Linked DNA regions of Homo sapiens. The protein of the gene in region 3 interacts with the protein of the main gene of each other region in a pairwise test. Each region holds a gene or a part of one and is shown on either strand. Other genes may lie near its edges. The genes, in order: OPRM1, MS4A13 and GJA4.

Evidence for each region.
Region 1: the proteins of GJA4 (region 3) and OPRM1 interact in binary tests that used the Homo sapiens proteins (3 or more experiments, as listed by UniProt).
Region 2: the proteins of GJA4 (region 3) and MS4A13 interact in binary tests that used the Homo sapiens proteins (3 or more experiments, as listed by UniProt).

Annotation. Positions count from the first base shown.
Region 1 is NC_000006.12:154,091,170-154,094,920, forward strand, and holds part of OPRM1 (mu-type opioid receptor), read left to right. Parts: coding exon 1-303; coding exon of another isoform or gene 304-318; exon of another isoform or gene 319-639; coding exon of another isoform or gene 640-720; exon of another isoform or gene 721-788; intron 789-2,100; coding exon of another isoform or gene 2,101-2,277; exon of another isoform or gene 2,278-2,351; intron 2,352-3,040; exon of another isoform or gene 3,041-3,149; intron 3,150-3,751. UniProt on the Homo sapiens protein: Receptor for endogenous opioids such as beta-endorphin and endomorphin. Receptor for natural and synthetic opioids including morphine, heroin, DAMGO, fentanyl, etorphine, buprenorphin and methadone.
Region 2 is NC_000011.10:60,513,728-60,517,478, forward strand, and holds the start of MS4A13 (membrane-spanning 4-domains subfamily A member 13), read left to right. Parts: upstream 1-1,664; 5' UTR 1,665-1,880; intron 1,881-2,241; 5' UTR 2,242-2,357; intron 2,358-3,751. UniProt on the Homo sapiens protein: May be involved in signal transduction as a component of a multimeric receptor complex.
Region 3 is NC_000001.11:34,791,271-34,795,021, forward strand, and holds the start of GJA4 (gap junction alpha-4 protein), read left to right. Parts: upstream 1-1,728; 5' UTR 1,729-1,798; exon of another isoform or gene 1,799-2,076; intron 2,077-2,831; exon of another isoform or gene 2,832-2,926; 5' UTR 2,927-2,943; coding exon 2,944-3,751. UniProt on the Homo sapiens protein: One gap junction consists of a cluster of closely packed pairs of transmembrane channels, the connexons, through which materials of low MW diffuse from one cell to a neighboring cell.

The DNA.
Region 1 (3,751 bases), on a different chromosome or scaffold from region 3:
GTGGCTGTGTTCATCGTCTGCTGGACTCCCATTCACATTTACGTCATCATTAAAGCCTTGGTTACAATCCCAGAAACTACGTTCCAGACTGTTTCTTGGCACTTCTGCATTGCTCTAGGTTACACAAACAGCTGCCTCAACCCAGTCCTTTATGCATTTCTGGATGAAAACTTCAAACGATGCTTCAGAGAGTTCTGTATCCCAACCTCTTCCAACATTGAGCAACAAAACTCCACTCGAATTCGTCAGAACACTAGAGACCACCCCTCCACGGCCAATACAGTGGATAGAACTAATCATCAGGTACGCAGTCTCTAGAATTAGGTATATCTACTGGGGATGACATAAAAATTATAAGGCTTTGTGCTAAACTAGGAGTTTAATCCATTATAGAGGATGAGAATGGAGGGAAGAGGGGAAGCAAATTGTGGTTCTAGTGTTAGAGAAGAGGTTTGTTATATAAACTGTGTTCTTTATATTTGACTGTACATATTCATTTAGGTATAAAGATACACCAATGAGAAATCCATGAAACTATTCAAAATAACTATTTTTATGGCCTTTACTTCTATGCAAAATTTATGACTTTAGCACATTATAGAAATAATTCTGATCTAGAATCCTTTTCATTTTCCCCAGAATTATTATATAATTCATAGATGTTGCTGCAATACCCCTCTTATTTCTCAAAAGCCAGTCTTGCTCTGGTTCTGTGATTAAAGAGAGAGGGTGAGTGCCTTGCCCACTGTGGTCATGGATGCAAGATATTCACAGAAAATTAGCATCATGGAAAAGGAGAAAAGATTAAAAAATGACCATCCCTAACTTTTCTTAAGCTATTGGTTTGCTACCTGAACTCTAGCACAAATATCAAACATATTAGACTGAATAATATATTATTAATATGTGAATATTAATCTAATAAATTTTATTAGATTAAACAATTTTTAACAGACCTCATGCTTGTTGGAGATAATAGGGTGAATAGCGACTAGCTTTTGGAAGGTGTATTTCTGTGCCCAGACCTACACAGAAAATTCAAGACTTATACACACTATTATAATCATATGGGAAATCAACAAGGAGGAAAGAGAAAAGGCTGTCTCCAAGTTAGTATTACTTGATTAAGCCACTGGTTGGCTAAATTTGACCTCTGATCTATAAAATCAATCAAATACATGGCTTAATTTTTAATATTAATCTAAGTAAGTAAATTTTAAATAATGATGCCAGCATCCAAAAATCACAGCCTGTATAATTTTTTTAACAGTGAATTCAAATTCAAACTTCCTATGAAGTAAAGGCTGGAGTCAGAATCTTGGCTAAAGTTCCTAGAGTCAGGCGTCAGGACTGTGAGGACAGATGGCTCCGGAGAAATGAATAGCAAGTCAAATGATTGAGGAGCTAGGGGAGGCCTTTGCCACCACAGGGTGCAGTGGCTTCCTCCTGCTGTCTCTTGACCACACCCTGTCTCTCACTGTCCCCTCTTTACCCCACTCTGCCATCCAGCCCAGCCCAGGCTCAACCTTTCTAATTGACCAGAGGACTAATGTAATATGGCCCAGATACATCCGTCATGGGCGACATTAATCCTCATACCCCTGGTATTCAGTGATGCTCAAGGGAACACAGGAACTCACACCCCCTAGAGAGCATGAGGTAATGATGGCAGACCCACTTCCAGACAAAGGGAAATTAACTTATTATGTCTCAGTTCTAATTCCATTTCAGAAATGAATGCCAGAAAGAAATGGTTTTGACTCTGCTTCTTTTCTCTACGTTTTTTTCCACATCAAGACTGCTAAACCTACTCCTTTTACTAGGAGCTACTTTTAAAAAGTAATTGCAAAAACAGCGATTACTTTTGCACCAACCTAATGCTAAGCAGCCCTCCTATTCAGTGGCTGCTAGAATCTTGTAAGTAACTTTAAAAGGGCAGGGATTTAAATAGATTTTCACCAACCTGGGGATAACATGTTAAAGATTGCAACTTAAAATGCCTAGTCCTCAGCTAAGGATAAAATATTTTGCTTTGAAGTAAAATATTTCCATTGGAGCAAAATAATGGCCATTATAAAGTACTGACTCTTTCTCCTTTAGTGCCTACCTATACCTTCCCTGTCTTGCTGGGCTCTAGAGCAAGGCTGCTTGGTTGTGTACCCTGGACCACTGCAAGGACCTCTTGTCAGATATGACCTCCCAGCTATCCTTCACTCGTCCTGCCTTCGTGGAAATACTGCTCCCAGCCCGTCTGGTGGAGCATTTCTCCTGAGTTAAGCATGATTATTCTTCAGTTGCCCGACACTGCCCTTGACTCCCTTCCAAATTCGGCATTTTCACATCAGTATGGCTATTGTACAGCCAGATAGAAGAGAAAAGAAGCTAATTGGAGGAGTTCTGTTCCAAGTAACTAAAAGGTTTGCTTTAAAAATACATCCAATTAGGCCTTATCTTCATCGCTGCCTCTATGAAGCAGTATCAGTGTAAGATAACAGCAGAAACACATTAGCCCTCGAATTGGTTGCTGTCCCAAAATGCCCAACTGAGAGAACTGGACACAGAAGAGAGGCTGCCAGGAAAAGAGGGAAAGATGCTCTGACATATTTAAAAATTAAGATAAATCAAAGCTCCCTTTGGCTAATCTCCACTGATGTGTCATCATTAGAATTAAAGCAGTTACAACCAGACAACTGGAACAATACATAAGCTGCTAGTGATAGTTTCAATAATATATCAACATAATAAAATGACTTGAAGGAGAAATTGGAGACTTGATGGCTGTGTCTATAGGACATGTTAAGTTAGTTGTACAAATCCAGAATGTGATAAACAGGTGTTTGGTCGTTGTTTCACATCATGACCCATCATGTTGGAAAACAAAGCTAATAGGATTTGCATTTAACTTTTCAACTACTTGTTTGAAGTTTATATTGGTTGTGGATGTTTATGTTCTGCCTTATGTATTTGTACTTTCTTTGAGGAATATATTATACTCTATATGTCACATTTCAAGCACATTAGTCAACTTCATATTCTGCAGATCAGAGATCCAATATCAAACCTTCCCAGGGTGTCTGTATTCTGACAACTGTCCACTGAGGCAATTTCCATACAGCGCAAAGTGGAGTGGCGATTTGGCAGTTATCAAGGTAATTTGATAAGCCAATGAGAAAATTCTGTGCCCAAAATAAGCTTAGAGTCATACTTACACAGTTAAGAGCTGCTCAGTCAGCTTTTGTTACATTACAAATCATTCCAAAATGTAGTGGCTAGAAGCAACCATTTATTTAGTTTACAATTCTGTAGAACAGCCATTGGAGCTGGGCTTGGCTGGACCGTTCTTCCAGTATTGGCTGGGCTTGCTCGGAGGGCAGCTGCCCGATGGGCGGGTGGTCAGCTAGCTGATCTACATGGCCTCAGCAAGAATGACTAGCTCCACATGGACTCTTACCGTCTAGCATGTTACCCCAGCCTTGTTCTCATGGTGGTCACAGATTCCAAGAGAAAGAAAGAGAGAGAGAAAAGAGGAAAGCGTCTTTTGGCATAGAGTAGGAATTGGCATACGGTCAACTCTGTGGTTTTATAGGTCAAATAAAGTCATCCTGCCAACCTAGATTCAAAGGGTGAGAAATTAGACTCCATCTCTTGCTGATAGGATCTGCAGTCACATTGCAAAAGGATAGGTATATAGGGAGCGAATAATTATGACCACTTCTGCTAACAATCCGTAGTAAGGACATGCTGCATGAGA
Region 2 (3,751 bases), on a different chromosome or scaffold from region 3:
TCACTAATGTCTTTTGTATACTGGGAACTAATTCAAGAGAAATTAACAATATGATCCACATGGAGAAATAAAAGTCATATTGGATGTCAAACCATGACTGATTGATTGCCTCTTCATTGCTGAAGAATACAGTTTTTAACAACCAAAGGATAAAAAATTAAAGTGAATTCTGAATTTCCAAATCCAGTTTATAGGTACTGAGAAAATCAATGTTGCTTTTACTGATCTGTGATATTAGCAGAAGAAATAAGATGTACCAAGGAACCATGCCTGTCTCATAGTTTGGCTCACTCTTCTATTTTTGCCTATGTTTATACTGAAAACACATTTTGGCCCCAGTCCAAAAAAATGACCAAATCCATGATAATTTCCAGAGACTGTTGGCCAAAGCTTAAATGAAGAAATATGTCACTTCTCTCACAAATAATCAATCAGTCTTGGCAGCAAGTTACAATAGCGGTCCATCTCATCAGAACTGGCTCTTACTACTATGGATTCTAAAAAATCCATAACCCTGAGGTTGAAGACACAGTTCCTCTTTCTACAGCAAAGAGAATGCTTAATATTATCGGAGCCCTGTCTGCTCATAGACAAGGAACTCACAAAATAATAATAATGCTAGAAACTGAAGTGGTATATTACTTAAGAATAAAACTATTACCTTCAATGACATACTGACCAATACAGAATGTAAAGACTTTAGAAGAGGCTGGGCTTTTTTTTTTTGTTTTTTTTTCCTTTGATTTGAGGGGACTTTGGAGTCTCAATGTAAGGAAGCTAGCTGTGAGACTAAAAATTAAGATTCTCAATTTACAGTTGATTTTTCAGGCTATAAAAGATCTTGATGGCTTTTAGACACACTCATGATTTAGCTTTTTGCAAATAAAGGTGTTGAAAGCATAGAAAATTTCCTTATGAAAGAAAAATCTGTCTTGTTTTCTGCGTGTTTTACTCACTGGCTATCATTGACTAAAAATTTACACTACAAGCTGGAATTTTAACTATTCCACAATGTCAATTTAAATTTTCCATGAATAAATGAGAAATGCCATTGAGTGGCTGTTCTCCAGGTACTTTAAACGCCTCAGTAAGTCATGATAGCTGCCTAAGAGGATGGTCTGTACTGCTCATCTAAAGCACCTCTTCATAAACACTGTTTTAACTACTGTCTACACCTCAAACAGAAAACTAACACCACGTGTCACCTAAAAGGTAAACCCGCCTCAGCAAGTGGATCAAAAAGTCATTCTGGTGTCTTGTTAAGTATTACTTTCATCACTAATTTCCTTCTTCAGTTACTTATGTTTAAAGAAAAAAAAAGTGAGCCATTGATTTAGCCACTTCACTCGAAAGTGCACCTTCCAAAGGTGCTCTTGTGGTCAAAATTTTTCTTTGAAGACAGAAAAGGTGAAGGGCGGACTTCTCCTCAGTGATCCTGGTCACTGTGCAGCAGGTGGGTGTATAAGAAATGCACCAATATGGGCAATCTCAGAATAGAGGTTTGCAGAAACCGTTCCTAGAGGCACCAAAACGTAGTTAACCGGGTGTCTGACCACATGGCTGCCAGGAGCCTAGTGAGTCTGCGCACACGCACTACCTCCGCCCCGGCAGTTCCTGAGTGGGTGCGCAGGCGCAAGAGGAGCACACCGTTGCCATTGCAGACCGTCACTCCCTGAGGAGCCTGAGAGCCGGCCGGGTGCTGGGCTCCTGGCTATCCCTGTGATGGTAGCTCAGCGAGATCTGGGGACCTGGCGCTGAGCGCGTTGCCAGCCGGGATCTTCCTCTTCATCTAGGCCTGGGCGCTGGCGTGAGAACTCGGACTGGGTCCTGGACGAGCGCCCCCCGAAACTCCTTGGAACCTTGAACAAGTAAAATGCAGGGTAGTGATGTCGCTTTGCTGGAGTGCTTTCGTGTCAGAAGCCATAAAGGGACACGGAGGCTGATTACGGTGTTCCTCTCCCTATCATACTCTGTAAACAGTAGGCACTATTTACTACTCAGAGATGATAGCTGTAAAATGCCGATATGTTTTAGTCATAGAGAGAGACTTTTCAGTTATGAAGGCTGTTATTCAGAACAGATGGATGAAAGTTGATGCCTCTAATATTAAGGCCTAGAAAGAAGAAAGAAGGCTATTGCTTCTGAATTTGGAGAGGTGGTGACTGAACAATAAGGAAAGGATCAAACTTACGTATTTTCTTCTAAGAAAATAATGTATATGTGCTTTGTACTGTTTTGTAGAAGTTTGCTAATAAAGACATCACCAAAGGTTAAAGAGAAAATCATCTAGAGGAAATGCTGGCAGTATGGCATGTGTTCTTTAACAAATCTCTACAGCAGATTCTCTCGTTTTAGGGGTAAGATTTCACTTTGACTAACTAAATTTAAGATCATGAACTATTTCATTTTTTTAACGGATATATTGGATCTAAAGGGGGACAGACTTGGTTAAATCAAAAGGGTAAAAGTTTTTTTTTTTTCAAATGTTGATTGTCTTCTACAAATTTTGACTGATCTCATGTTCCTTCATGTGCTGAGATATGGGGATACAGACTAAACCAACACACACAGGATAATAGAGAAATCCAAGTAAGGTTTAAAAGGAAAAAAGAGAGTACTGCACTTACATTTATGCAGTAGGATGATTATAAATTTGTCTCTTCTATTAAGTTATAAACATGTGAAGTTACAGTTTAGCTTTCTTAATGAACACCAAGGAATTATGAGTATCATGCTTTTTCACATCCAAAGGGGAGAAAACATTTCCACTCGTGAACTTTTCTTCTGAATTTGAATGTTGCATAGATCAATTATCTAAGTCGCCTATACGACTGTTCAGCAGAGGTTCTTAACCTCTTTGGGGTCACAGACCATTTTGGCATAGAATGAAAACTCTGAATCTTCTTTCCAGAATTATGTACATGTCACAATCCTTCGCATTTTTTTTCCCTGGGGGCAGGGGGTAGGCGGGTCTGACCTCCTGGAACTCATATTGATTCTAGATTAAGAATCATTTTTAAATAAGAAAACCTATCTTGTCCTTCTCCACACACTGGCAGTTCTTAACAAGCATTGGCTAATTAGCTATCTCATGGTTTTATATAAAACAATAGTCAATCATTTAAAAAGAGATAGTACTTTTCAAGCTCACTTACTTTTTTAACAGTTGGGAAAGTCACATGGAATCACTATTCTTGACACCAGTATGCTTATATAAGAGGTATTTGCTGGATGCCTTCTCTATTCTGGGCACCATATTAGAGGCTGGTGATAAAACAATAAAAAAAAAAAAACTCCAGGCCCTAAGGGATTTTGCAGTCTAGTGGGAGATATTTCTCCAGGCAAATCCAAAGAATTTCTGGAAAATTACCATTCTTGCAAATTTGATGCAAGGGGAAACGTTAAATTCTAAATCTATAAAAATGCATGATCGTTACCAAAAAAGAGACTTTTTCTTAAAAAAAAAACAAAACTTCTCCAAAATGTATTTTTTAAAGTTAGCCAATTGCACTTATATATTTCATAGACTGCCTGCTTTGCAAAGAGCTGGAACTCTTAAAACATTAAATAGCTTTCTGTTTAAGTTTATATGAAAATAAAATTTATGTGTCCTCTGTCATTTTTAAAGAGTAATCAAAAATGTGATTAAATATATGAAATATCAGTTCACATATAAATTCAGAAATAAATTTGCTGGGATTATAATTATCTTCTTACAAATTAGAGTTGAGTAATAATTCTCCCCTATTCA
Region 3 (3,751 bases):
TGCCCTCAAGGGTCAGAATTAAGTGGGGCAGTTGTTAGCTTCAGAAATCCAGGAGACTCAGTTCAGCCTGGCCCTGAGGGAGAGGCCTAGAGGGGAAGCCAGCCCAGCCGGATCCCTCAGGGCAGCTAGCCCTGAAGTTCTCAGGTCTGCGTGTCCCCAAAGATGTCCTCCTGCTGGTCCTGAAGACAGAACCCTCAGGGACCCGGCCCTGGGGCCCAGGGAATCCAAGGACTAAATCTTGCTGTGGAGGAACAGGGACTTCTGTGCCACCAGCCCCAGGCCTCAACAGCCCCCTGCCACCTTCCCTTTCCTCAGCTGCGCCAGCCCCTACCACCCTCTAAGAACAACCCACAGACCCTTTTTGTTACAGTATCACAATGTTTTTAGCCACCACTCACTTGAAAAACTTTATGTACCACTATTACACTATGTGCTTTGATCACACTGTATGCCATCAACCCCACAAAGTAGATACTATCACTATTCTCATTCTGTAGAGGAAGAAATTGAGGCACAGGGATTTGAGTAACTTGCCTAAGGGTACAGGAGTCAACAGCAAAGTCTCAGCTCCTGGGCTCAGCCACCAACAACGTCTCAGCACTCCGAGGGCAGTGGCCACAGTCTCAGAACCCCACAGCTCCAGGCCCTCGAGCCACACTCATGCCGCCCCTCTACCTAGAATGCTCTTCCCTTCCACTTGGCTAATGGAGGGGGAAAAGCATTTCCTCTCCTCCAGGAAATGTTCCTAACCAAGTCCCCTGGGAATCACCCAGTACCTCTCAGGAGAACTTTCCACATTTATTATCTTACCGTTATCCAAGGGCTGATATGCTCAATCCCTGCACCAGCCAGTGAGGGAGGAGGCCAGAGACCAAGTTTGGCTGGTTCCTCAGGGTATCCCCAGGTCCCCAAGCAGCGTCTGCAGCACAGCAGATGCTCACTGATGCTCATCCACCTGTGATGCCTGAATGCATGAAGGCAGGCTCCGCATAGCCCTTTCATTCCTATGGATGTCCCCCACACCACCCAGCCACCATTTAGAGGCATAAGAACGGGGTCCAAGCTAAAGGTCAGGTGGTTCCCCCACCCCCAGTCTCAAGGAGTCCATGGGAATTGCTTAATGGCCTCTGATTGTGTAGCCTGCCCAGACATGGGGATGTTTGAGAATTCTGGAAGAACGTGGGCTGGGCGTGGATAGAGACGCCTGCTCCACCATGTATGCTGGAGGTGTGGATTACAACCCCTGTCCCCCATTGGAGCTTCCCGCGCCGTAATTAGCCTTGATCGCCTCATCCTGGCACACTAGGGCCAGCCACCTAGCAAATGAGTGGTCCCCACACTCCATCCCCATCCGCCCACCCCTCACAGCCCCGCAGGCCAGTTGCCCAGATCCACAGCCCTTACTGCAACCCCTTCAAATCCAGCCACCCTGAGAGATCCTGGCCTGGGAGAACTCTCCTTCCCTGGCCAAAGAAACGACAGGAGAGTTTACTGTCTGGAATACCTGGTGGAGAGAGAACAGAGGAGAGGAAGGGTAGGTCAGCCCCTCTTGCCCCTCCCCACCGCAAATCACACAGGCCCACCTCCCCGGAGTGGGTTTAGGGAGTCTGCACCTCCCAGTCCCCGCCCCCGCCCTCTCTCCAGCGCCCGCCGCCCTCCCCGTCGCGTTTCCTGCCCCCACCCCGCCCCTCTGCGCTATTTAAGGCGCCCCCGCCGCTCGTGCGGTCCAGCAGGGCTCCCGCGGGCGTCACTCCGGCCATCGTCCCCACCTCCACCTGGGCCGCCCGGCAGGCAGGCGGTGAGTCGGGGGCTAGGAAGGGACCAGGGGCGCCACCTGCTCGCGGGAGGCCGGGAGGAGTCTTGGGTCCTCCGATGCCGGGACGGGGGTTGCTGCGGAACGCCCGCCGCGACAGAGCCGCGCTCACCCAGGTGGCCTTGGCCAGGCTCCCACCCTCTTTCCATGGAATCCTTGTAACAACCCGAGGCGGGAGGAATACTATTGTTTCCACTCTATCGTGGAGGAGACTGAGGGGCCCAGAGGTTGTTCCTTATCCAAGGGGCCGCAGTTACTAAAAGGCAAGATTTGAACCCAGGGCCGCTTCCAGAGCCTGGCTCTAAACAGCTTTGCACTTGGGAAGAGGCACCTCCCCCTTGGGAACTTTGTGGCCTGTGCCTCACCCTGCAATGACAATTCCTTTCAAGAGTCTAGAATTTGCCAGCATCAGCTTTGGAGGTGGAAGGGGGTGGGAGTGGAGGTGGAGGAAGAAGACAGGACCAAATGTCCCTCCTCAAGTGGCAGGTGGTCATTATTGCTGACCGGTGGAGCTAAAGGATGATGCTGCCTTCAGCTCCTAAAACCCCTTCCACTACCCAGCCCCTGCAGGCTCAAAGATTAGAGTGAAGCCAGCTGGGTAAGATATGAGGCGGGGAGCAGGGACCTGAGGCTTTGAGCCCCCTAAGAAGCAGAAGATAACACCTCTACCATCATCACTAGCTCCCACTGTCTGGGGGTAGCCAGCCTTGGGCAAAAGGGAGGAAGGGCTTAGCCCAGCTGCACAACTTTGGATAAGTTCCTCAAATTCTGTTCCCATAGGCAAAGGAGCCTCAACTCCACCCAGATTTCCTTGGCCTGTGTCCATCCTGGGGCAGTGGCTCGGGGACAAGAGGGACATAGATGTCTGATTAGGCAGGGACCTTAGCCAAAGCAGAATGAGACCATACAAAGAGGTGGGCAGCCATCATCCAAAAATCTGGGTTGGGTCCTGCCTGCACTGCTGAGTGGGAGCCTCCAGGCCAGTCCTTCCCCTTCCTGAGCCTGGGTTTCTTTGTAGGTAGAACGGGCGTGGCAGACCTCCCTGCAGGCTTGTTGCTGGGCGAACGAGAAGGATGCCATGCTGACACACTGACGTGCTCTGTCTCCTTGCAGACGGAGGCCCGGGAGCCATGGGTGACTGGGGCTTCCTGGAGAAGTTGCTGGACCAGGTCCAGGAGCACTCGACCGTGGTGGGTAAGATCTGGCTGACGGTGCTCTTCATCTTCCGCATCCTCATCCTGGGCCTGGCCGGCGAGTCAGTGTGGGGTGACGAGCAATCAGATTTCGAGTGTAACACGGCCCAGCCAGGCTGCACCAACGTCTGCTATGACCAGGCCTTCCCCATCTCCCACATCCGCTACTGGGTGCTGCAGTTCCTCTTCGTCAGCACACCCACCCTGGTCTACCTGGGCCATGTCATTTACCTGTCTCGGCGAGAAGAGCGGCTGCGGCAGAAGGAGGGGGAGCTGCGGGCACTGCCGGCCAAGGACCCACAGGTGGAGCGGGCGCTGGCGGCCGTAGAGCGTCAGATGGCCAAGATCTCGGTGGCAGAAGATGGTCGCCTGCGCATCCGCGGAGCACTGATGGGCACCTATGTCGCCAGTGTGCTCTGCAAGAGTGTGCTAGAGGCAGGCTTCCTCTATGGCCAGTGGCGCCTGTACGGCTGGACCATGGAGCCCGTGTTTGTGTGCCAGCGAGCACCCTGCCCCTACCTCGTGGACTGCTTTGTCTCTCGCCCCACGGAGAAGACCATCTTCATCATCTTCATGTTGGTGGTTGGACTCATCTCCCTGGTGCTTAACCTGCTGGAGTTGGTGCACCTGCTGTGTCGCTGCCTCAGCCGGGGGATGAGGGCACGGCAAGGCCAAGACGCACCCCCGACCCAGGGCACCTCCTCAGACCCTTACACGGACCAGGTCTTCTTCTACCTCCCCGTGG